Linked DNA regions of Homo sapiens. The protein of the gene in region 5 interacts with the protein of the main gene of each other region in a pairwise test. Each region holds a gene or a part of one and is shown on either strand. Other genes may lie near its edges. The genes, in order: LHX5, GABPB1, SPART, CLTA, HIP1, GLS2 and SF3B3.

What was found.
Region 1: the proteins of HIP1 (region 5) and LHX5 interact in binary tests that used the Homo sapiens proteins (3 or more experiments, as listed by UniProt).
Region 2: the proteins of HIP1 (region 5) and GABPB1 interact in binary tests that used the Homo sapiens proteins (3 or more experiments, as listed by UniProt).
Region 3: the proteins of HIP1 (region 5) and SPART interact in binary tests that used the Homo sapiens proteins (3 or more experiments, as listed by UniProt).
Region 4: the proteins of HIP1 (region 5) and CLTA interact in binary tests that used the Homo sapiens proteins (3 or more experiments, as listed by UniProt).
Region 6: the proteins of HIP1 (region 5) and GLS2 interact in binary tests that used the Homo sapiens proteins (3 or more experiments, as listed by UniProt).
Region 7: the proteins of HIP1 (region 5) and SF3B3 interact in binary tests that used the Homo sapiens proteins (3 or more experiments, as listed by UniProt).

The regions. Positions count from the first base shown.
Region 1 is NC_000012.12:113,465,372-113,468,871, forward strand, and holds part of LHX5 (LIM/homeobox protein Lhx5), read right to left. Parts: intron 3,034-3,500; coding exon 2,756-3,033; intron 2,051-2,755; coding exon 1,885-2,050; intron 1-1,884. UniProt on the Homo sapiens protein: Plays an essential role in the regulation of neuronal differentiation and migration during development of the central nervous system.
Region 2 is NC_000015.10:50,345,199-50,348,698, reverse strand, and holds part of GABPB1 (GA-binding protein subunit beta-1 isoform beta 2), read left to right. Parts: intron 1-2,303; exon of another isoform or gene 2,304-2,327; intron 2,328-3,500.
Region 3 is NC_000013.11:36,329,395-36,332,894, forward strand, and holds part of SPART (spartin), read right to left. Parts: intron 2,203-3,500; coding exon 2,005-2,202; intron 124-2,004; coding exon 1-123. UniProt on the Homo sapiens protein: Lipophagy receptor that plays an important role in lipid droplet (LD) turnover in motor neurons.
Region 4 is NC_000009.12:36,193,921-36,197,420, reverse strand, and holds part of CLTA (clathrin light chain A), read right to left. Parts: intron 1-3,500. UniProt on the Homo sapiens protein: Clathrin is the major protein of the polyhedral coat of coated pits and vesicles.
Region 5 is NC_000007.14:75,550,442-75,553,941, forward strand, and holds part of HIP1 (huntingtin-interacting protein 1), read right to left. Parts: intron 3,149-3,500; coding exon 3,012-3,148; intron 1-3,011. UniProt on the Homo sapiens protein: Plays a role in clathrin-mediated endocytosis and trafficking. Involved in regulating AMPA receptor trafficking in the central nervous system in an NMDA-dependent manner. Regulates presynaptic nerve terminal activity.
Region 6 is NC_000012.12:56,478,162-56,481,661, forward strand, and holds part of GLS2 (glutaminase liver isoform, mitochondrial isoform 1 precursor), read right to left. Parts: intron 2,227-3,500; coding exon 2,127-2,226; intron 1,741-2,126; coding exon 1,619-1,740; intron 1,548-1,618; exon of another isoform or gene 1,021-1,547; coding exon 891-1,020; exon of another isoform or gene 102-890; coding exon 22-101; exon of another isoform or gene 1-21.
Region 7 is NC_000016.10:70,558,316-70,561,815, reverse strand, and holds part of SF3B3 (splicing factor 3B subunit 3), read right to left. Parts: intron 1,348-3,500; coding exon 1,225-1,347; intron 187-1,224; coding exon 32-186; intron 1-31. UniProt on the Homo sapiens protein: Component of the 17S U2 SnRNP complex of the spliceosome, a large ribonucleoprotein complex that removes introns from transcribed pre-mRNAs.

The DNA.
Region 1 (3,500 bases), on a different chromosome or scaffold from region 5:
GGCGGCCGGGCCGGAGGTAATTGGAACAAACGCCGTCTGAAAAGGGCACAAAAGCCGCAGCTGGGGCTTTGTCCGCGCTCCCACGGGGAGCCGCCGGCCCCGCCGCCCGGCCCCTTTCTCGCCCGCTGCCGGTCGCCACCGCCGGGATCTCCCAGCGCGGATTAGGCGGGGCTGCCTCGCTGGGGGCTGGGGAGTCTTCCCCACCATTACGGGGAACGAGGGGCCCCCAGTATCCAGCTCCCCACCTCATCCAGCGCGCAGGGAGAGGAGGCGGTGGGATAGGTCGGGGCGGGGGCGAAGTGGTCCTCGGGGAAACCTTGGTTAATTATCCAGGCGGGGAAAAATTCCGGGCCGGTACCGCCCCCACTACCTCGCTGCTCCGGGCCCAGATTTTGTAGGGAAAGAGGCAAATTTAGGTGGAGAGAGTCGGTGAGTGGAGACTCCGGAAGACACGCCCACCATCCGGGCTCTCCAGGGTTGGGGGTCTGTCCGGGGTTGGGGGTCTGTCCAGGGTTGGGGGGCTGTCCAGGGTTGGGCGGCTGGGGCGCTCCAGCCTGAGCCCTGCCACTGCCTGGGGTCTCTGCCCTGAAAAGCACAGCCTGGCATTTTGCCCACAATTTCTAGGGGCCCCGGTCCGGTCTCAAGGTCTAATCCCCCCTCAGGCTTCCGGATGTGCTGAGGTTAGTGATGGGGTTATCTTCCCTTCCCTTCTGCGTCTACCTGGGTGCCTAGCTCCTGCCTTGCTAACACTGCCACTGAACCCACTTTCTAAGAGAAATTGCCTCTTCCTAACCTGCGTTACAACTCAGAAGTGCAGATGCCTCTCAGACATAGACAGTCCTGGGGTCTCTCCAAATTCAGAAGCTTCAGAATAGAAGAGGAGAGGTGCTTTCTTGAGCCCTCAGCCCTGGGAAGAACAGGACAGTGAGCTTGGTGAGCTCAAGCAATGCGGCTCAGGGTAAGGAGCTGAAAAAATCGGATAGGGGGAGTTGGGATGGCTCACCAATCCAGTGTGAGGGAAGTGAGAGGAGGAAAAGCTGAGGTGGCAAGGGGACAGCTCACCCCAGGCCCAAGCCTGGTACCACCATCTGAAGCCCTTTGTAAACTGGGGCTCCTCGCTCTCTGCAGCCCCAAAGACGGTGGAAATCTGGGGTTGGCCCAACACTTGTGCCCCCAGTCTGTAGGAACCCCAGGGGTCTCGGGGCTGGAGGGTGGACTACAGTCCTGCCCAGAGCAACTGCCGGCATTTGGGCTAACACTGCCAGATGCTGTGCGCACACACCCCGCCACATGGAACAGGAGTTGCTGCCTTCGATGCTAGTGAGCAGGCGGCTTGGAATGAATCCAGACCCCCATCCCCTCCCCTCACACTACCCTCCAGCGCTCGGAATCCACCTCATGCCAAGTACACCAGGCACAGGGCGGCAGGAAGGCTGTGCGTCTGTCCGTGGGGGCCGCATGCATGTGGATTTGCCAGTACTGGCCTCAGTGTGACTGGTGGGAGTGTGCGCGTCTGTGGAGTTGTGTCTCCGTGAGTGTACCTGTGTGTGAGAGGGTGGAATTTACCTATACGTGATCGTGCGATCGTGTCTAGACGTGTGTCCCTGGAGTCTCTGAACGCAAGTGTGAGTGCACCTTGTGCCCTGCGTGGGTGAATGTGTCACTGTATCTCGTGTGTGCTTCTGTGTGCATCACTGTATGGGTGAGACCATGTATCTGATTTTGTGTCCAGGACATGTGGGTGAGTGTACATGTGTCTGTGATCGTGTGTCCAGCGAGTGGGCGATGTTCTGGAGCGGCGGAAAGCGTGCTGGCCGGGACCCTTCGCCCTCAGCTCCCGGAATAGGACAGGTGCGGAACAGCGAATCCCGGGGCGCCCCTTACCTCCGTAGTAGGTGTACGGGGTGGACCCCAACATCTCAGACTCGTCCAAGCGGCCGCCCAGCGGACGCATGCGCCGCGGACTCCGGAAGAAGGCGTGCCTCCGGGCGCCTAGGGCGCTCAGCTGTTTCATCCGGCGTTCTTTGGACCGTCGGTTCTGAAACCACACCTGGGACAGAGGAGGGGGCTGTGAACCCAGGATCAGGAGTGTCCTCTCCCCCCCTCTTCTCCCTTCCCTGACTGGGCTGCCCCTGCTGGGTCCTTGCGCCTCTTCCGCACCAGGACTCCCCCGAGGCGGGGCCGGGCCGGATTAGGCCGGGAGGGGTGGAGAGAGGCTTCGGCGAACCAGCCAAGGGTGAAGGATTTCGCGGACCCGTGGGGCGACTCATAAAGACTTGGGCTTCCTGGTCCCCGGCTCGCCCGCGGCCTGACGGCTCTATAAAGGCCTCCCTCCCGGCACGGCTCTCGCCTCGGCCCCTCGGCTCCGGAGCCAGCCTCTGGCCGTTTGTCTGCCCGCGCTTCGGCGCAGGGAGGGAGGGGGCATCGCCTGTTTCTCTGCTCGAAAGGTGGAGGTAAAGAGGGATCCCGGACCCCAGAGAGGCTTACAACCTTCCATAAGCAAGGCGGGGGGCGGAATTCAGAGAGGTAAAGTGACCCGCCCCCAAATCGCAATACCAGGAGGACAGCAGGGCTAGATGGAATCTTTCGGTTCACAGTCCCCGACCTCGGGCAAGTGCCCCACTCGGGCGCACGGTCTGCTCCCAGACCAGAACCAGGCGCGCTCGTAGCCAAGGAAGCTTGGCGGGAGACTCCTCCGAGGCTCCCGGCTCCCAGGCCAGCGGGGCTAAGGAGCTGTGCCCGCCCCGGGCCGCACCTGGATGACGCGCATGTTGAGGCCGGTCTCCTGCGCCAGCTGCTCGCGGATGTGGCGCGTGGGCTTGGGCGTGGCGGCGAAGGCAGCCTTGAGCGTCTCCAGCTGCTTGGCCTTGATGGTGGTGCGGGGGCCGCGCCGCTTGGTGCCCGAGTTCTGCTCCTCGTTCTCGTTGTTGGCCGTCTCCTTGTCCGACGAGGTCGAGTTGTCCGTCTCTTTGGGGTCGTCCTGCAGTGCGTCCTGGAGGTCCGGGGACAAACTGCGGTCCGTACAGGATGACACTGCGGGCGGACGGATCGGGAAGGGGACAGCGGCGTCAGCGACGGCCAGACGCCTCTTCAGTCCAGTGGCGGGTTCCCGCCGGCCCAAGCTACGGCCTGCCCAGGCTACGGCCAGCCCCGCTGGATTCCCTCCCAAACCTGCGACAGCCCCTCCCCCAGGGACCCGGTGCCCGCCCACTCTCTCCAGGCGGGGCTGGGCCTTTGGAGGGGCGCTCTTAAGCCCTCTCCGCGCGTCTCAGCTAGTACCTGGGTAAGGGTAGGGGGACGCGTACCCTCTGGAGAACTCCCACTTTCAAGGAGAGGGGACAAGGAGGGCACAGATTCCCTTGGGGCTTGGATCTTCCTCTCTCTTCCCTCCTCTCTCCAGACCTCAATTAATGTCCTTCCAGTGCATCAAGAAATTACCTGGAGCTCAAGTGACACATAAGGGGGAATTGTGCGCTTCCAAATTAGGGGAGGAGGGCAAC
Region 2 (3,500 bases), on a different chromosome or scaffold from region 5:
GTAGAAACGTGGTTTCACCATGTTGGTCAGGATGGTCTTGATCTCTTGACCTTGTGATCTGCCTGCCTCGGCCTCCCAAAGTGCAGCAATTACAGGTGTGAGCCACTGTGCCCAGCCAAAAAGTTTCAAAGTTTAAAAAAAAAAAAATGGCCGGGCTCAGTGTCTCATGCCTGTAATCCCAGCACTTTGGGAGGCCGAGGCGGGCGGATCACTTGAGGTCAAGAATTCGAGACCAGCCTGGCCAACATGGTGAAACGCCGTCCCTACTAAAAATACAAAAATTAGCCAGACGTGGTGTGTGCTTGTGTCTCGGCTACTCGGGAGGCCGAGGTGGGAGTATTCCTTTAGTCTGGGAGGCGGAGGTTGTAGTGAGCGGAGATTGTGCCACTGTACTGCAGCCTGGGTGACAGAGCAAGATTCTGTCTCCAAAAAAAATTTAAAAAACTACTCCTGTTGGTCCTGACTGTGATTCTATTTTAAAGAATATCTTAAACCCACTAATGCTGTGATTATATTACATAATGTAGAATCTTTTTCTGAAAGAGGCTTGAGCATTCCTATAACCCAATTAGCTTGTTTATGTCTCATTACACTTGAGGGATAAGATACTTTTACTATGGTGGTTTACTATAGTAGTGATTCTTTTTTTTTTTTTCCAGATGGAGTTTCACTCTGTCACCCAGGCTGGAGTGCAGTGGTGTGATCTAGGCTCACTGTAACCTCTGCCTCCCGGGTTCAAGTGATTCTCCCAAGTAGCTGCAGTTACAGGTGCCCGCCACCATGCCCAGCTAATTTTTGTATTTTTAGTAGAGACGGGGTTTAGCCATGTTGGCTAGGCTGGTCTCCAACTTCTGACTTCAAGTGATCTGCCCACCTTGGCCTCCCAAAGTGCTGAGATTACAGGTATAAGCCACTGCGCCCAGCCTATAGTAGTGATTCTTTAAAGGAGGTGGGTAGATGACACTGTGATACCTGTCTTTAATGCACCCATTCTGTGCATGTAGAGACTGAGGTGGTTGTAAAATTACAGTACTGAACTTTGGAATTAGGTCAATTCTTCTCATTATGATAACGGTTTTGGATGTATAGCCCCTTCTGACTCCTGGAATCCTTTATTTCCACAGCACTTCCCATGTATCCAAACAGAGGAAAAAATAATTAGTAGTATAGTGCTTGCTTCAGCAGCACATATACTAAAATTGGAACGATGCAGAGAAGATTTTCATGGTCCCTGCACAAGGATGACACATAAATTTATGATGTGTTCCATATTTATTATTATTTTTAATAATAAAAAATAAAAAAAATTTGTATGGTGTGTAAGTGAATGATCTAAAAAATTTCCTTTGTGCCCTAAATGACTTGTGTGAACTCTGTGATCTTTGCCAATGTGATTATTCTTCCTGTGTTCCTTTACTTGTTCCATTCATAGTGACCCTCAGTTTCTTGCCCTAAGTGCTATGGTCTAAAAGCTTGTGTCTCCCCATAATTCATGTTGAAATCTTAACCTCCAAGATGATGGCATTAGGAGATGGGGCCTTTGGGAGGTGATTAGCTCAGGTGGGTAGAGCCCTCAGGAGTGGGATTAGTGCTCTTAAAAAAGAGACTCCAGACCGGGTGCAGTGGGTCATGCTTGTAATCCCAGCACTTTGGGAGGCTGAGGTGGGTGGATCAGGAGGTCAGGAGTACAAGACCAGTTTGGCCAAGATGGTGAAACCCCATCTCTACTAAAAATACAAAAATTAGCCGGGCACAGTGGCAGGTGCCTGTAATCCCAGCTACTCAGGAGGTGGAGGCAGGAGAATCGCTTGAACCTGGGGGGGGCGGAGGTTGCAGTGAGCCGAGATGGCGCCACTGCACTCCAGCCTGGGCGACAGAGTGAGACTCTGTCTCAAAAAAAAAAAAAAAGACTCCAGACAGCTTGTTAGCTCTTTCTTCCACATGAGGTTACAGCAAAAAGACAGATGTCTAGAAGCTGGCCCTTACCAGATACTGAATCTGCCAGTGCCTTATTTTGGACTTCTCAGCCTCCTGGGCTGGGTGAGGTGGTTCACTACCAGCCTTGGCACCATAGTGAGACTCCCATCTCTACAAAAAAAAAAAAAAAAAAACTTTCTGTTGTTTGTAAGCTACCCAGTTTATGGTATTTTGTTACAGCAACCCAAACAGTCTGAGACGTTTAGCTTAACTCCTGTATGCACTAGATACAGTCTGCACTTTGACATCAATCACTTATTTTATATTTTACTGGACTCCTGTTGTCAGATTTTTCCACCATCGATTTCTTCTGTTTTCCCTCACAGGTCACAGCATATTTGTGGAGGAAGGTGAGTAATTATGAAGATTTCTTGGCCACTATAAATTTACGCTGAACAATTCCAAATAGGCCCCTCCTACTTCTTGGCAATCATCTTATTAATTGCATTTTTCTGTTGTCTCATATTCCTTCTTCCTCTTTAACTCTTAATAGATGCCATTTACTTCTATATAAGTGAAAAAGGAAAACAGGGTACAAGCTTGCACATTTTTTTTTCATTGTAACCATGACAAATCACTGTTCTTTCATCTTATTTTGTAAATTGAACGGAAGAAGAATCCTGCTGCCACAGTTAACTTTACCTCTCTGGTCACTTTGATTGTTATTTGCAATGTTTTTTCTTCCCTACCTTAAAATATGTACAGACTTCTCACCGGGCGTGGTGGCTCATGCCTGTAAACCCAGCACTTTGGGAGGCCAGGGCGGGTGGATCACGAGGTCAGGAGATCGAGACGATCCTGGCTAACACAGTGAAACCCCGTCTCTACTAAAAATAAAAAAAATTAGCTGGGCGTGGTGGCGAGCGCCTGTAGTTCCAGCTACTCGGGAGGCTGAGGCAGGAGAATGGCGTGTACCCGGGAGGCGGAGCTTGCAGTGAGCCGAGATCGCACCACTGCACTCCAGACTAGGCGACAGAGCGAGACTCCATCTAAAAAAAAAACAAAAAAAAATGTACAGACATCTGTACTTTGGGAGGAAAAAAAATCAATTTTGATGAACTGCTGCTACTGTTCTTTCTAGCTATCTGCTGCATTTCTCTTCATTTCAAAAATTTTAAGAATTGAATTACAATTGCTGCCGTGAGTTTTTACTTTTTTTTCGAAGACAGGGTCTCACTGTGTTGCCCAGGCTGGAGTACAATTGCAGCTCACTGCAGCCTTGACCTCCCCAGGCTCAGGTGATCCTCCTACCTCAGTTTCCCGAGTAGCTGGGACTACACGCATGTGTCACCATGCCTGGCTAATTTTTGTATTTTCCTGGTAGAGACAAGGTCTCACTGTGTTGGCCAGGCTAGTCAACTCCTGAGTTCTTTTACTACTACTTTCCTAACTTACGCAGTTTTGGAATAGCATAATTCAGATTGTCGCTTCAGAGGACATCTTTTTTGTCAATAATATTGGCTTCATCCTGACTCTTTTCAGCTAGTATATATGTGTTACTATTTCCACTGAGGCTTTTTAAT
Region 3 (3,500 bases), on a different chromosome or scaffold from region 5:
CTTATTGCCTTGGTCCAACTGTTTCACATCAGTGCCAGAGGCTTCTTTTAGTTGGTCAGAGGAGGGTCTAGTTCTTCCAGGGATTTGGAATTCATTTTCTTCTTCTGCTCTGTTCCAGTTGGCCTAGAGAATAAAGGTTTAAGCTTAACTCTAATCAGAATTTTTCTTAGATGGCTTTCTGCCAGCTATATTACACCATGCTCAAATGACATACTTGTTTGAATGTCAGTTTGGCAGTCTATCAGTAACAACTACTTTTGCTTTTTTCTCTACGATTCTCTTTTGTTTCATCACCAAACCCCAAACCTCTGAGTTCTTTGGTTCATAGCATATGCCTAAGTAAGTTTCAAAAGACAACGTGTAAAAGACAACTTATAGCAGTTGTTGGTATAAGTTATCTTTGAATCAGATGCAGCTACATTTAAATTTAATTAATGAATAAATTTTAGTTAACATGTACAAGAGAAAGTGAATTTAAAGGCAATTAACAAAACTCATGTCCATTTCATTATGCATTATTGGAAGGTTTATTTTTTAATTTTCTGCACAATATACACTTTGCTGAATGAATGCTTAAGAGTAAAAACCAGTCAAAATTATAGCTAGTAACTAGCTTATGTTTACAGTTGAAGTTCTGGGACAGTAAAGCAAGCTAAAAATAACATACAAATACCAAAAAATTAAATTGAAGACAGAAAATAAACATACAACCTAAAAGTCTGCTTAGTTTCTTTCCTAAAGCCCAGTAATACAGGTCCAGTTAACGTAGGGGTGAAGGGAGAAATAGTTCCACATTAGGTCTGTGAATACTTAAGAGCATCATTTCACTCAGTAAACAGTGAAGTGAAGATGAACTCCTTCATTTGACCATATTCCTGCCTTTGTGAATTCCTCCTCACAAGTACAATGAGGCTACACACTTCTGTATGCTGATCATGTATTTTGTTAAATAATTGCTGCTATGCTAAAGTATTGGTTTGTTGACCACCAGGTAGGTCATTCTCGGGTGAACAGGGGCTGATTTTATATTTTCATACACACACACACACACACACACACATCCCCCACACCTTCGTGGTCTCCTGTTCTCATACTTTGCCCATCCCATCACTTAACACAGTAACTGGTTAAATAATGAATTCCAAGTATCTGCTGATTGAAGGAGAGAATAAAAGATTATACTATTATAATGCCCACCTCATTCAACCCCTGATGACTGTCAATATTCATAATCAAAAATACTTTTTCCCTCTTGCTACAACAATATATAAAGAAAGTCTCTCCATAATACTCTATTCAAGTTCCCTGTTAAACAGAAATACTCTATTTCTACAGGTACGCATGTGGGCAGAGGAAACATGCCAAATAAGGAAAGTTCCAGGATGATCATATTTTAAATCATATTTTCTTTTTATTTTTTTATTTGGCCTTCATTTACCACAAGAACAAAGATAATTATCTCAACCAAAGCCTGTTTCTTCCTCAGAATGCCAACCATACCCCTTAAAATGTCCAACATAACCTATCTACTAAAGCTAAAATTATCTTCATGTCACCATTTAGACCCATTAGTACACTTTTCCAGCTGAGCAATAAAACAGTGGTGAAAACAATAGCTAACATTCACAGAGCATAACTACTCGTTCTGATATAAGTGCTTAATGTATTAATTTTTAATTTTCACCACAGCCCAATGAAGTGGACACTGTTATTATCCCCATTTTATAAGTAAATTAAAGTATAGAGAAGATCAGGAACAGCTGAGCTAAACGGTCATTAAGTGGAAGAGTTTGAATTCATATACAGGCAATTTGACTCTAGAGCTCACAATCTTAACCACTATTACAGCAAATTCCAAGCATGTAGTTGTGAACACACAAACAAATGGTGAACTGTCAGTCTCCTAACCTTGATTACAGTAGAGGTTATTACAATTTCTCTAAAAGCTGAAGTGCTTATGTTAAAGTAGATTTTTTTCACCCTAAAGATGATCACACAAGTTACCTGGAGCCGAAGGTCAGACATTTGCCTTAACAGATCCTCAAAGAGCTCTCTATCATCCTCTGGTAACTCAGAGGACAGGACGACCCCCACAAAGCATCCTGCTGCTTGTAGCATTGTATCAGGAAACATGTAGGCTCCCGCAGTACATTTCAGAACCGGAGATCTATCAGGAACTAGAGGATATAACCAGTCACAAACCTGAAAGGATTCATTAGAAGAAAAAAAATATACATATAAATAAATGAAACTAGATTTTCATTTATGTTTTAATAAAATTGTTATACTAGAAAATAAACACTTCAAAGTTGGAAACATATTTTAAAAGGCTTTAAGAAACATCAACATCAACAAATCCCCAAGAAAATTAATCATTTGCTAGTCTGATCTTTCTGCAATAAGGACTGTGCTAAATGTGCCATGGCTCCACTAATTATACAATCTTAAAGCTGATGGCCTTAACTAGCCTAGTGTTAACCAATAATGACTCCAGCTTTAAATAAATAATAATCAAAGTAAATTAAGGTTTTCGTTATTGAAATCAGATATTCCTTTTGTGGTAAATAAACTATTTTCAGATATTATTTACTTGAAATATTTACTGAAATAATAGTATTTACTGATTTAATCCTCCTAACAATCCTATGAAATCAGTTACTATTATTGTCATTTTATGTACAAGAAAATTGAGGCACAGAGAGGTCAATTAAGTCGCCCAGAACCAACAACTAAAAAGTGGAGCTTGGATTTTAACACATATAGTCTGGACCAGAGAAGCTGAACAAGTATTTTAATTAGAAACCCAGCACTCACAGGCCGGGCACAGTGGCTCACACCTATAATCCCAACACTCTGGGAGGCCAAGGAGAGGTGGGGGGATTATTTGAGGTCAGGAGTTCAAGACCTGCCTGGACAACATGGTGAAACCCCCATCTCTACTAAAACTACAAAAATTAGCTGGGGGTGGTAGTGCATGCCTGTAATCCTAGCTCCAGCTCCTTGGGAGGCTGAGGCAGGGGAATCACCTGAACCTGGGAGGTGGAAGTTGCAGTGAGCCAAGATTGTGCCACTGCACTCCAGCCTGGGCAACACAGCAAGACTCTGTCTCAAAGAAAAAATAAATGAATAAATAAGAAATTCAGCACTCACTCACAACATGGAATAATTTTTTGTACTAAACCCAAGAGAACCTGACATAACAGAATAGATTAAGTTAATGTTTATGGATTATCTATCTATTGTGAAATTAAAAGCAAAATAACAAAAGCTCTCCTGCAATGTCATCTGCGGAGGTCGGCTTGCCAGTACATACACAGACATAAGCTCACATCCTGGCTGCCTAATTTATTTCTAATGCAATACATTCTTTGAGAAACCAAAATATAACTGTGCTCAACATCAAAACAGTCTTACCCACAAACTTTTAACATTTGAGTAGTTATTTATTTTAATATGTATGAGAAAAATACATATTTCCCTTAATTTCAGTTATTATTAAG
Region 4 (3,500 bases), on a different chromosome or scaffold from region 5:
CTATATACAACAAATAAAACCAAGATGTGCTTATATACAAATTTCACCAAAATGTGTACACATCTGTCCTTAAGCTCCCAAGTCCAAAAGCTTTTGATTTTATTTTCTGTTTTCTATTTTACAGTGGTAACAAATGGAAGACTAGCAGAAAGAGAACAGTGTTTCTCTATGAAAATTCTGCATGAGGGAAAAAAAAAAGTGTGGCCTGGAATCACCCATAGTGAGCAGAGACCTGCAGCTTCATCTTTGAGACAGTCTTGCTCTGTCGCCCAGGCTGGAGCAAAGTGGCCCAATCATGGCTTACTGTAGCCTCGACCTTTTGGGCTCAAGCGAACCTCCCACCTCAGTCCCCACAGGAGCTGGGATTGCAGGCATGCGCCACCACGCCTGGATAATTTTTCTATTTTTTTGTAGGAAGGGGGTTTCGCCATGCTGCCCAGGCTGCTATCGATTTCCTGGACTCAAGCGATCCACCCGCCTCGGTCTCCCAAAGTATTGGATTACAGGCATGAGCCACCATGCCTGGCCTCTCATATTTTTCTTAATTTTCCTAGTTGACTTTTACTCCTATATGTCAGTACAAAAATGAGTTTCTTATAGTTTGTCAGTGGCCTTTTACCACTTTAAGGCATGTGCCACCTACCTATGTAGTTTTTTAAGCACTCTATAAAGTTTTGGAAATATGAAGTTTATCAAACTAGTGAAAGCATGGGGGAAGCATATTCAATTTCGCCTCTGTAATAAATTTCTTGGTGTAGAATTGCTGGGTTACAGCTGGGCGCGGTGGCTCACACCTATAATCCCAGCACTTTGAGAGGCCAAGGTGGGAGGATCACTCGAGGTCAGGAGTTCAAGACCTGCCTGGCCAACATGGTGAAACCCACCTCCATATACTAAAAATACAAAAATTAGCCAGGGTGGTGGCATGAGCCTGTAATCCCAGCTACTCAGGAGGCTGAAAGAGGAGAATTGCTTGAACTCGGGAGGCAGAGGTTGCAGTGAGCCAAGATCGCGCCACTGCACTCCAGCCTGGGTGACGGAGCGAGACTCCATCTCAAAAAATAAAAAAAAAAAAAAAGAAAAAAGAAAGAAAAAAAAGGAATTGCTGGATCACAGGATATGTATTTTATTTTTTTTTGAGAGAGAGTCTTGCTCTGTTGCCCAGGCTAGAGTACAGTGGTGCAATCTTGGCTCACTGCAACCTCCACCTCCTGGGTTGTTCAAGTGATTCTCTTGCCTCAGCCTCCTGAGTAGCTGGGACTACAGGCGTGAGCTATCATGCCCACCTAATTTTTTTTGTAGTTTTAGTAGAGACGGGGGTTTCACCACGTTGGCCAGGATGGTCTCGAACTCCTGACCTCAGACGATCCACCCACCTCAGCCTCCCAAAGTGCTGGGATTACAGGCATGAGCCACTGCGCCCAGCCAGGATATGTATTTTTTTATTTTTTTTGAGACGGAGTCTCACGCTGTTGGCCAGGCTAGAGTACACTGGCGCGATCTCGGCTTGCTGCAACCTCCGCCTCCCAGGTTCAAGTGATTCTCCTGCCTCAGCCTCCCGAATAGCTGGGATTACAGGCACGTGCCACCATGCCCGGCTAATTTTTGTATTTTTTAGTAGAGACGAGGTTTCACTATGTTGGTCAGGCTGGTCTCAAACTCCTGACCTCAGGTGATCCGCCCACTTCAGCCTCCGAAAGTGCTGGGATTTCAGGCGTGAGCCACCGCACCTGGCCCAGGATATGTATTTCAAAGACTTCTAAAATTCTACCCACTTGTTCCTATTAGTCTACCAGTTTATATTACTACTAGCAGCACAAGTGCCCCATTTCTTAGACCTTCCCTGATACTAGGGACTGTGCTTGATCATGTTTTAAAATTTTTGCTAATTTGATAATGGAAAAAAAAAACAAACTCATGGTGGCTTTGTTGTGCCAATCTTATTTCCAGTGAGGTAATCACATACCCGACACCTGATTTTCTTCTTTACTGAATTTTCTGAGTTTGCCTATTTTCCTGCTATTTTTTGATCTCTAAGTATTTGCTCTCTAATAGTCAAATATTTTCCCTAGTTTCTCTTTTGATTTGGTTTATGGTATTTAACACTTGGAACAACTTAATTTGTGTATGTAGACATGATCGACTTTTTCTTCATGATTTCTGTATCTGCTTTTATGCTGAAGGCCTTTCCTATTATGAGATAGACAAATACTCACTTTTCTTCTTTTACTTTTTAAATGTCTCTCTTTAATCCACCTGGAATTTATTTTTGTGTAAGACAGAAGAGTGAGATAGTTTTAAATCCTAGATCCTACAGTGGCTAGTCTGGCCAGGCCTACATTATGGTTAATATAGTACAATTGACATACCAACTATCCACTAATATAGTCCAGCCCTGGGCTGGAATATGAGAGACTTTGATCACTACTCCATATACAAAACAAGAAGCAATCCTCATCCCACATCTCCTTAAAAATCACATGCTGTCTGAAGGCTCCTCCAGACCCACTGGCATCTGCTTTCCTCTTTATTAGTTACTGTATTACTGCACTAACATTCTTACAAGAATCAACTGGCTCAAGCCAAGGGATCGTCTGTTGCTGTGGAAACATGCAGAAAGGACATGTAGGGCCTTGACTTACTACAACAACTAAACTAAGCAACACGATGCTTCAGAAGGAAACTTTCTAGGGCCTTTCAGGAACTCCAGACAGAAAAAGGGCCAGTTTTCAAAAGTGAAAGACTGTCCCAAACCCACTTTCAACTTTCCACATTCCAGAAACATTTGAAGTCAAGCAGACCTACGTTTGAAGCTGCACTTGAGCCATTTATTACCTTGCTACCTTAGTGACACTGCTCAACTTCCACACCGATCCATTCTCATCTGAAATATGACACTACCACTTAACCTGTGGAGCTACTGCTGGGATCTGAAAGTGTACCTGGTATACAGCAAATGTGCAGTACAATTAACTATCATGCATGAGATTTCCCTAAACTTCCCTCCACCACTGCTACCAATAAAATTACTTCTCCAGAAAGCTTCCCTTTAATTCACCCATGTCTCTTTCTTCTCCTACAAGAAATAACTTGTCACCGGGTGCGGTGGTTCACACCTGTAATTCCAGCACTTTGGGAGGCCAAGGCGGGTGGCTCACCTGAGGTCAGGAGTTTCAGACCAGTCTGGCCAACATGGTGAAACCCCGTCTCTACTAAAAATACAAAAAGTTAGCTGGGCACGGTGGTGGGCGCCTGTAATCCCAGCTACTCGGGAGGCTGAGGCAGGATAACTGCTTGAACCCAGGAGGCGGAGGTTGCAGTGAACCGAGATCGCACCACTGCACTCCAGCCTGGGTGACAGAGCGACTGTCTCAAAAACAACAAAACACCATAATAGTGCCTTACTGCTGTACTCTCTCTGTGGCTTGTCTCTCCTGTTCTCTTCCCCGACTCAGCCCTCATGATTGAGAGCTTTTCAACAGCTCCACTTGTGCTGCCTC
Region 5 (3,500 bases):
AAGCCTGTTGCCCAGGCTAGAGTGCAGTGGTGCGATCATAGCTCACTGCAGCCTCCCACTCCTGGGCTCAAGTGATCCTCCCTGCCTCAGCCTCCTGAGTAGCTGGGACAACGGGCACACACCACTAGGCTCTGCTAACTTTTAAACTTTTTTGTAGAGTCAGAGTCTTGCTTTGTAGCCCAGGCTGTATCAAACTCCTGGCCTCAAGTGATCCTCCCGCTTCGGCCTCCCAAAGTGCTGGGATTTTCAGACATGTGCCACTATGCCTGGCCTGTCTTATTATTATTATTTTTTAATTCCACATAGATGCATCCCTATTAAGTTTGAATGTTTGAGTCTTTATATAAAAGGAATCCTACTGTATATATTTTTCCATGACTTGATTTTTCACTCAACATTCTATGTGTGAGATTCATCCTAATACCTAGTAATTCTGATTCTATGTATATACTCTAGAGAAACTGACATGTGTGCATATATGATCATAGGGGCAAATTAATAACAACCCAAACTGGAAATAACCCAAGTGTCCATCACCAAGAGAACAGACGGATGAATTAAGCGATATTCACACAATAGATAATGAGAGAGCAGTGAAAATGAATTTATCTTCTTGGATTAATCTCACAGAATGTGGAGTGAAAAAGCCAGTTGTAGAAGAATATATACAGTAGGACTCCATTTACCTGTAGTCTATATCATGTGAAACTAACTCTATTATTTAGGGAGGCAAAGATGTAGATGATAATTTTTTTTTTTTTTTTTTTTTTTTTTGAGGCAGTGTCTCACTCTGTCGCCCAGGCTGGAGTGCAGTGGTGCAATCTCGGCTCACTGCAGCCTCCGCCTCCCAGGCTCAAAGGATTATCCTGCCTCAGCCTCTCAAGTAGCTGGGATTACAGGTATGTGCTGGGATTACAAAATTAGCCACCACAACTGGCTAATTTTGTATTTTTAATAGAGATGGAGTTTCACTATATTGGCCAGGCTGGTCTCAAACTCCTGGCCTCAAGTGATCCACCCACCTCAGCCTCCCAAAGTGCTGGGATTACAGGCGTGAGCCACCACACCTGGCCCTGATCTTTTTATTTTTTCTTTTTAGAGACAGGGTCTTACTCTCTCACCCAGGCTGGAGTACAGTGGTTCACTGCAGGTGAACCACTCTGCAGAGTACACTCTGCAATTCACTGCAGAGTACACGGTTCACTGCAGTCTTGAGCTCCCAGGCTTAGGTGATCCTCCTGCCTCAGCCTCCTGAGTAGCTGGGACCAAAAGTGCTCACCATCACACCCGGCCAATTTTTAAATTTGTTGTAGAGACAGGGCGCCACTAAGTTGCCCAGGCTGGTCTCAAATTCCTGGCCTCAATTGATCCACCCACCTTGGCTGGATGTGGTCTTTTTATTATCTTCTTCTGGAACTCCAATTAGACAGTCTATCCTCATGGCTTTTATTTTTTATTTATTTTTTGAGTGGAGTTTCGCTCCTGTTGCCCAGGTTGGAGTGCAAAGGCACGATCTTAGCTCACTGCAACCTCAGCCTCCCAGGTTCAAGTGATTCTCCTGCCTCAGCCTCCTAAGTAGCTGGGATTACAGGCGCCTACCATCACGCCTGGCTAATTTTTTGTACTTTTAGTAGAGATGGGGTTTTGCCATGTTGGCCAGGCTGGTCTAGAACTCCTGACCTCAGGTGATCCACCTGCCTCGGCCTCCCAAAATGTTGGGATTACAGGCGTGAGCCACCGTGCCTGGCCCTATCCTTGTATCTTAACCAATATATTCCAATTCATAACACTGGGGAAAAAATGAAAAAAAACTGTACTGCATAGAAATGGTTTTCTTATTTTTCTTTTCCATAGAGTCCATGTCTTCTCTGTCCCTATATATACTTAACCCAATTTCTGGTATACAGGACATATTTATTTATAGCAGAGGCAGGGTCTCACTCTGTTGCCTAGGCTGGAGTGCAGTGGCACAATCATAGCTCACTGTGGCCTCCAAATCCTGGGCTCAAGCGATCCTCCTGCCTCAGCCTCCCGAGTAGCTGGGACTACAGGTGCGTGACATCACACCTGTCTAATTAAAAAAAAAATTTTATTTTGTAGAGACAGGGTCTCACTATGTTGCCTAGGCTGATATTGAACTCCTGGCCTCAAGTGATCCTCCTGCCTCGGCCTCCCAAAGTGCAGGGATTACAGGTGTGAGCCACCATGCTCGGCACTACATCTTTAGTAAATGAATGAACACAGTGTTATTTCCATTTTGGGTATTACCTGCCCACCTAGATAAAAATCCTCAGAGACAGGGGAGCTGCCTATACTTCTTTGATATTGCCTAGTGTAATGATGACAACATAGTAGATTCTCAGCTAACAGCCAGTGAATTAAATATAGCTGGAAAGTCCTTCAGGAGGTTTTTCCTTTTTAAATTTTTTTTTTTTTAATTTTTAAAGAGACAGGGTCTCATTTTGTTGCCTAGGCCTGTCTCAAACTTCTGGGATCAAGTGATCCTTTTTTTTTTCGAGATAGATCTCACTCTTATGCCCAGGCTGGAGTGCAATGGCATGATCTCGGTGCACTGCAACCTCCACCTCCTGGGTTCAAGCAATTCTCTTGACTCCACCTCCCAGTACCTGGGATTATAGGCATGCACCACTATGCTGGGTTGATTTTTGTATTTTTAGTAGAGACAGGGTTTCACCCTGTTGGCCAGGCTGGTCTCTAGCTCTTGACCTCAAGTGATCTGCCCACCTCAGCCTCCCAAAGTGCTGGGATTACAGGCGTGAGCCATCCCGTCTAGCCTCAAGTGATCCTCCTGACTCGGCCTCCCAAAGTGCTGGGATTACACGCATAAATCACTGCACCCGGCCAGATTTTCCAATTTTAACAATCTCTTTCTAGAATCAAGTTCTAAGTGCAGAAAGAACTAGCTCAGAACATCACCGATTCCCTGGCCATTCACCAGCACGCACACCCAGAAGAATAACAATGCTCCTCAATGATACTACTCCAAGTACCTCGCCGATGGCCTTGATCTTGCTCAGGCAGTTCCTCATGGCTGTGCTGTCGGCATTCTCAAGGCTTCCCTCTTCCTCCAGGGAGGCCAGGTAGGCGAGGGTTTCCCTGCCATACTGCTTACAGGCCTCGGTCAGTGCTGGAGATACAAGGCAATAGACACTTTTTTTTTGAGATGGAGTCTCGCTCTTGTTGCCCAGGCTGGAGTGCAGTGGCGCCATCTCGGCTCACTGCAAACTCCGCCTCCTGAGTTCAAGCGATTCTCCTGCCTCGGCCTCCCAAGTAGCTGGGATTACGGGTGCGCCACCATGCCCGGCTAATTTTTGTATTTTTAGTAGAGACGGGGTTTCGCCATGTTGGCCAGGCTGGTCTCGAACTCCTGACCTCAGGTGATCTGCCCACCTCGTCCTCCCAAAGTGTTACGGCGATTACAGGCGTGAACCATTGCATCTGGCCCATCGTTTTTGTATCTTTAGTAGAGATGGGGTTTT
Region 6 (3,500 bases), on a different chromosome or scaffold from region 5:
TCCTCTTGCCCAGCATCTCACCGTTGACCATCCACAGTGCACAGGGAGACACCCCACAGGTCTGGGTTTGACTTGGCCAGCTGAGGGATGTAGGCTGCCACCTGGACATGAGTGGGTAGAGAAAAGGGAGATGGATGTGGAGAAGAGGAACAGAGTTGAGGTTGAGGGTCAAGAGAATCTTTTAGATAAAAGCTAAAATTCTGTCTTCTATAGGGCAGAGGGGTTCCCTCCTGCCTGTTGCTCCCAGAAATGCCCGAGCCTTAAGTCCTAGAAGGCCATATCTTTGTGTATCCGCAATCCTGTAGAGATAGCAGTAAAGCCAATGGAAGTTAAAAAAGGAGAATTCTGAGGCAACCTTCCCCTTTTGGTTCTTAGGCTCAGTTACCCTATAAATCCCTTTGAAGGCTCTATTCGATCTTGATTCCCTCACCTGCTCTAGGAATCGTGTATAGAAACACATGAAGCCATGTCACCATTTACAGAAGTTCTGCTTCTCATCTCTCATTCATAGGACTCCCAGCCCCAGGAAATCTCTGAGAAGCGAGGTATATCTAGGTGTGGTGGCTCATGCCTGTAATCCCAGCACTTTGGGAGGCCGAGGTGGGTGGATCACTTGAGATCAGGAGTTCGAGACCAGCCTGGCCAATATGGCAAAACCCCATCTCTACTAAAAATACAAAAATTAGTCGGGCATGGTGGTGTATGCCAGCTACTCGGGAGGCTGAGACAGGAGAATCGCTTGAACCTGGGAGGTGGAGGTTGCAGTGAGCTGAGATTGCACCATTGCACTCCAGCCCGGGTGACAGAGCAAAACTCTGTCTCAGGAAAAAAAAAAAAAAAAAAAATCTGGCCCAGGTCCCTGACCCCTCCCTTAGTCCCCTGACTCTCACTTTGCCTCCAGTGAGCTCTTTGACATCCTCAAAGATGCGATCCACATGGCCCGTGAACTCCTCAAAATCAGGAATGACAAACTTCTTTCGGAATGCCTGGGTCAGGAGCACAATGTTGCTGCTCACACACCTGGATCCCAGACACGATTGGATTAGGGGGCTAGAGAAATGCAGCTGGGACTCACTCTGGAGCCACGGAAATTGGGAATAAAGAAGGTTGAGTGGTCTTCAGGTTTGGGATCAACAGCTCTGTTACCTTTGGCAAATCAGTTTACCTTTCTAGGTCTTAGTTTCCGTACCTCTAAAATGAGGGGTTTTAATGATGTGGAAAGACACTATGTCTTGGGATATGAGAAAAAAAATAAATACCAGAATAATATGTATGTATGTTACCTTGATATTTAAAAAATCCTAAATCATAAAAGTATATTTATATATATTCATGTATGTATGTCAGTACATAGGACATTATCTAGAAGATACCCACTAATCTGCTAATATTTACTTCTGGGAAAAGAGGACAGGGATTGAGTAGGGAGGGAAAGGAGAACATGTATTTCTATATTGTTTGAACTCTTATGATGAGTATTCATGTATAACTTATGTAATAAGTAATAAAATAAAATGAGGAATTGAACTATACAATTCCCAAATTCCTCCCTGCTCTGAGAGTCTATGTCCACAGGACAGTTTTCAGAGAGCAGTGCCCTTGTTTCTGGGGCCCTCACTTTCGGAAGAGATCTCGGTCCAAGAGGCCACCACTACTGGACTCTTGGACCACGCGGTGCATCTCGCTCATGCAGTCTCGGAGCCGAGGATCTGATGTCTGCAGTCCAGTGGCCTTTAGTGCCTTTAGAGGAAAGAAGAGGCCAGAAAGGTCAGCTACAAGGACAGTGATGTACTCCTCATAATCTTTCCCACTGGATACCCAATTAGCTGAACCCCAACCACTACAATAGGTGGAACAAATGGGTTTGGAGAATAAGAAAGGAGGGGATGGAGTAGCTCTGAAGGCTAACAAGGGTTTCCTGTCCTTTTTCCAGAGGGTTTAATCTTCTGACCCTGGGGCAGGGATGGGCTTGTCTTGTCAGCCTAGACATCTGGATTCTCATCCATCTGTATGCTTCACCCTCATGTAGCAACCCATTAGCTGCCCTGCACTTGTCATACCCTCCTTTCCCCACTTTTCAGAGATCTTAAGGAATTAGGATCCTGAACAGGTAGAGGGCAACTTACAGTGGTGAACTTGTGGATAGGGATTCGTTCCTGTCCTTCAGCAATAGTGTAAAAGAGCAAATCACCCAGGCGGGACAGCATGCCACTTTCTGATGAATCACTGTTTGGGGGCAGAGAATGGGGAGGAAAGTGGGGCCTGAGAACTGCTACCTGCTCCTCCTTCTGCAACATGGGCTTATAAGTAGGTGAGTGTCCTCATTCTATGCCTCCTCCTTAAGCCATCTGATCTATCCCTATAAATCTAACTTTCATGTCTGTCCTAAGAAGTTGTAGATCTTTTCTCTAGCTTTTACTCCTGACCTTCAGATCTTTATTTTTAGCTCCCTTCTCACACTTCCACCTATAGGTTCCCCACAAGCACTGAAAAATATGTCCAAACCTGAGTCATCTCACTTCCTTCCCTCTTCTTCTCCTCTTGTTTCCCACCTGGGTTAACAGCATTACCACCCACCTGGGTGCCAAGCTGGAAATGTGGCATCATTTTGATAGTTGCCACACCTTAAGTCCATGCTTAGTTGGTCACCAACATTGGATGAATCTGCCTCATAATGTCTCAAATCCACCCTCTCCTCCTTTTCCCTGTGCCAGCATGGTGTAGTAGACCAGAGTTTGCCCCTTAATAGCTGTGTGATCTTGAGCAGGTCGCTTAATATTGCTGAACTTGCTTCCTATCTGTAATACAAGGGTAGTAATGTCTACTTCACCTGGGTGATGTGAGGCTTAAGATAATATTCTGTGAAAAACTGCCTGACACAAAGTAAATGTTCAATAAATCATGTTTATCATCAGCTCCTTATTCCCTATTACCTAATTGCCACTACACTCTCTTGACTTTCAATCCATCTTTTTTTTTTTTGAGACAGAGTTTTGCTCTTGTTGCCTCAATCCACCTTCTAAAATGTGCCAGTGATCTTTTTTTTTTTTTTTTTTTTTTTTGAGACGGAGTCTGGTTCTGTCGCCCAGGCTGGAGCGCAATGGCGCGATCTCGGCTCACTGCAACCTCCGCCTCCTGGGTTCAAGCGATTCTCCTGCCTCAGCCTCCTGAGTAGCTGGGATTACAGGTGTGCACCACCACGCCTGGCTAATTTTTTTGTATTTTTAGTAGAGACGGGGTTTCACCATTTCGGTCAGGCTGGTCTCGAACGCCTTACCTCGTGATCCGCCTGCCTCAGTCTCCCAAAGTGCTGGGATTACAGGTATGAGCCACCACGCCCAGTCAAAATGTGCCAGTGATCTTTCTAAACTCAAATGTAATTTCTCTACTCAAAAACGTTTGGTAGCTCCCCAGTGCCTACAGAATAAGCACTTGAAATAAGAAGTAGGCTGGGCATGGTGACTCACACCTGTAATCCCAGCACTTTGGGAGGCTGAGGC
Region 7 (3,500 bases), on a different chromosome or scaffold from region 5:
CTGCTGAGCTTCAAACATGAGACTCACTCACCGTAGGGTGTTGGTGGAGATGGCCACAATGCCCTCGGGACACTGTTCCGAGGCAAAACCCGATGCAAATTCCAGTGTCTCGTAAGACAGTGGGGTGAGATGGAAGCGAGATTGGTAAGAATAGCTCAACCATGAGCGGCTTGACATGGCCAATACCTGAGGGGAAAAAAAAAACCCAGCTCCAATAAGGTTTGGGAAAAAATACAAATATGGTATAAGCTGACCAAAAGCCCTATCCCCAAATTTCAGTCTGCAGAGTATCCTAAGATATTCTAGAAATATAACAGGCTATCTTAAGAAAAAGAGGGCTAGAGAGAGGCACTATGGCTTAGCATATGTGAAAAGCATGGGCTACGAGCCATATGATCTAGACTCACCATTTCATCTCTCTAAGCCTGCTTCCACGTGTGTAAAATGAAAACAGTACCACAAGGCTGGACAGCTGCAAGAATTAAATGGAATGAAGGCCAGGTGCGGTGGCTCATGCCTGTAATCCCAGCACTTTGGGAGGCCACGGCAGGCGGATCACCTGAAGTCAGGAGTTCGAGGCCAACCTGGCCAACATAGTGAAACCTCATCTCTACTAAAAATACAAAAATTAGCTGGGCGTGGTGGCATGCGCCTGTAATCCCAGCTAATCGGGAGGCTGAGGAAAGACAATTGGTTGAACCCAGGAGGCGGAGGTTGCAGTGAGCCAAGCTTGCACCACTACATTCCAGCCTGGGCGACAGAGTGAGACTCCATCTCAAAAAAAAAAACAACAAAAAACAGAATTAAATGGAATCAATTAGCACAGTGCCCAGAAACACTAACATTCTTAACTACAAAGGACACAATGTTTCCCAGTCTCTTTCACATTAGGTAGTAAACGTGACACTGATCTAAGACTGGGATAAAACCTGAGAATTCTCATGGCTAGTGGTGTCCTAGAGGGGAGGTTTCCAGCCCTATTTGACCAGCCAGAGGGCTAAAGGGATCGATATCTCTACCCAGCTATAACCAAATCATGACATGGTGCGATGGAGCCCCAGTGAGGAAGCTCTAGGTTAGGAAAACTCAGGACTTCTCACATGAAGGAAACCAATCAAGATGGAGTGGCAAATTAGTGACAGTGAAGCTTACAGCAAAGATTGTTCTCAGATGGTGCCACTAAAATCCCAAAGATGTTGCCTGTCCCCAACCTTCATTACTTACTGCCTCCTGGCCTTGCATTCGGACTCGGAAGAGCTTCACAGGACGGGACCCCAGGTACCGAGTGCGAGTATCAGACAAATCCCCAGTGACAGGGTCCAAGACAGTCCTCAGCAGCACACCGTTCTAATCAAAAGGAGAGGAGCAGGTGAAGCCTGATGGAAGCTTATCAGCTATGATGGGAAAACCTCTCCCTTGGGTACTTCACATAAGAAATTAGAGCAGATAGAAAGAAATGACTTGGGTGTTTAAAAAAGATCCTAATAATCCGATAGCCATTCATTTCATTCTCTCAGTAAATCACTTAATCATCCAAAGTTATGGAGCATCTACTAAGTAAATACACACTTATTTTTCACTATATCTTCTTAATATTTCTTTTTACCAAGTATATTAAATCCTTCTTCACTACTGTATATTTCAAATAAATAATTAAATAACCACAAAGACCATGGTCCCTAAACAGCATTTCCTCTTAAAGGAACAAGGTTCCTAAAAGGAATGACTAGTTTGGGGCAGGGGCAAGAATGTTCCAGACACATGTGGGGATACTTTATTGTGCAACAAGGCAAGGAAACCCCTACAAATAGTGGGGTCATGTTAAAAGGACAAAAGAACTAACTTCAAATAGAAATTCCCACTTTTCTAGAATGAGTCAATTTACCACCCCCCCGCACCCCTCAAAAAAAAAGAAGCCAGGTGAGGTGGCTCACATCTGTAATCACAGCACTGTGGAAGCCAAGGAAGGACGACTGCTTGAGGCCAAGAGCTAAAGACCAACCTGGCCAACATAGCGAGACTCTGTCTCTGTTTAAAAAAAAAAAAAGGAGTTTTCAGCACAAATGTATAAAAATCCACAAGTTTATGATGTTACTCTATTTTTTTAAATTTTTATTTATTTATTTATTGAGACAGGTTCTCACTCTGTCACCCAGGCTGGAGTACAGTGCCACAATCTTGGCTCACTGCAGCCTCCACCTCCCAGGCTCAAGCAATCCTCCCACTTCAGCTTCCCAAGTAGCTGGGACTACAGGCATGAGCCACCATTCCCAACTATTTTTTGTATTTTTGGTGGAAATGAGGTTTCGCCATGTTGCCCAGGCTAGTCTCGAACTCCTGAGCTCAAGCAATCCACCCACCTCAGCCTCGCAAAGCGCTGGGATTACAGGTGTGAGCCACAGCACCTGACCAATGTTACTCTAAAAAACAGCAAAAAACCCACTTTACTGGGCCCCACTGAAAGGAGTGCTGTGGCCCTCACTCCTTACTCTGAAAACAGGTGAACAATGGGAAAAAAATTATTTATCCTTTTCCTGTATGAACCGTACTTATAGTAAGCAAAGAAATGATGCGAATTTTGTCTTTAGAATTCCAACTAATTAAATCCAAAAAGAAATAAATCATTTTCCAACCACTAATGAAAGAATGAACCTAGGCAATGTGTGTAATAGCTGTAAGTAAAGGGTTGACGGGAACTTTAACACAGATACAGACAAACATCCCAACATCACTGTGAGTGGGACAACCAGACACTACACTCCTCCTGACGTGATGCAACAGGAGTAAACAGCACCACCTATTAAGTATTCCTGTCCCCCTCCCCCAATAATTAAATCTGAATCTAACCAACTTCTTCTTCTGCAATATCCGATACTATAGCTACCCCAAGCCACATGTGGCTAGTCAGAACTGAGACAGGACCAGGCATGGTGTCTCACACCTGTAATCCCAGCCCTTTGGGAGGCCAAGGCGGGTGGATCGCTTGAGCTCAGGAGTTCAAGACCAGCCTGAGCAACATGGCAAAACCCCATCTCTACTAGAAACAAGAAAAATTAGCCGGGCGTAGTGGTGCACACCATAAACCCAGCTACTCAGGAGGCTGAGGCATGAGAATCGCTTGAACCCAGGAGGCAGAGGCTGCAGTGAGCTGAGATCACACCACTGCACTCCAGCCTGGGCAACAGAGCAAGACTCTGTGTCAAGGAAGAAATTTTTTTTAAATAAAGACAAATAAAATTTTAAAGAGAACTAAGACTGCTAAGTGTAAAGTGCCAATACCAGATTTCAGACTTGGTTTAAAAAAGAGAGAAAAAAAGGTGAAATAGCTCAGCAATTTTTATATTAACTACATGTTAGAATGATTTCAGATATACAGAGTTAATAAAACATTAAAACTGGCCAGGCACGGTGGTTCATGCCTGCATTCCCACCAGCACTTTTGGAGGCCAATGTAGGAGGACCACTTGAGGCCAGGAGTTCAAGACCAGTCTGAGCAACAC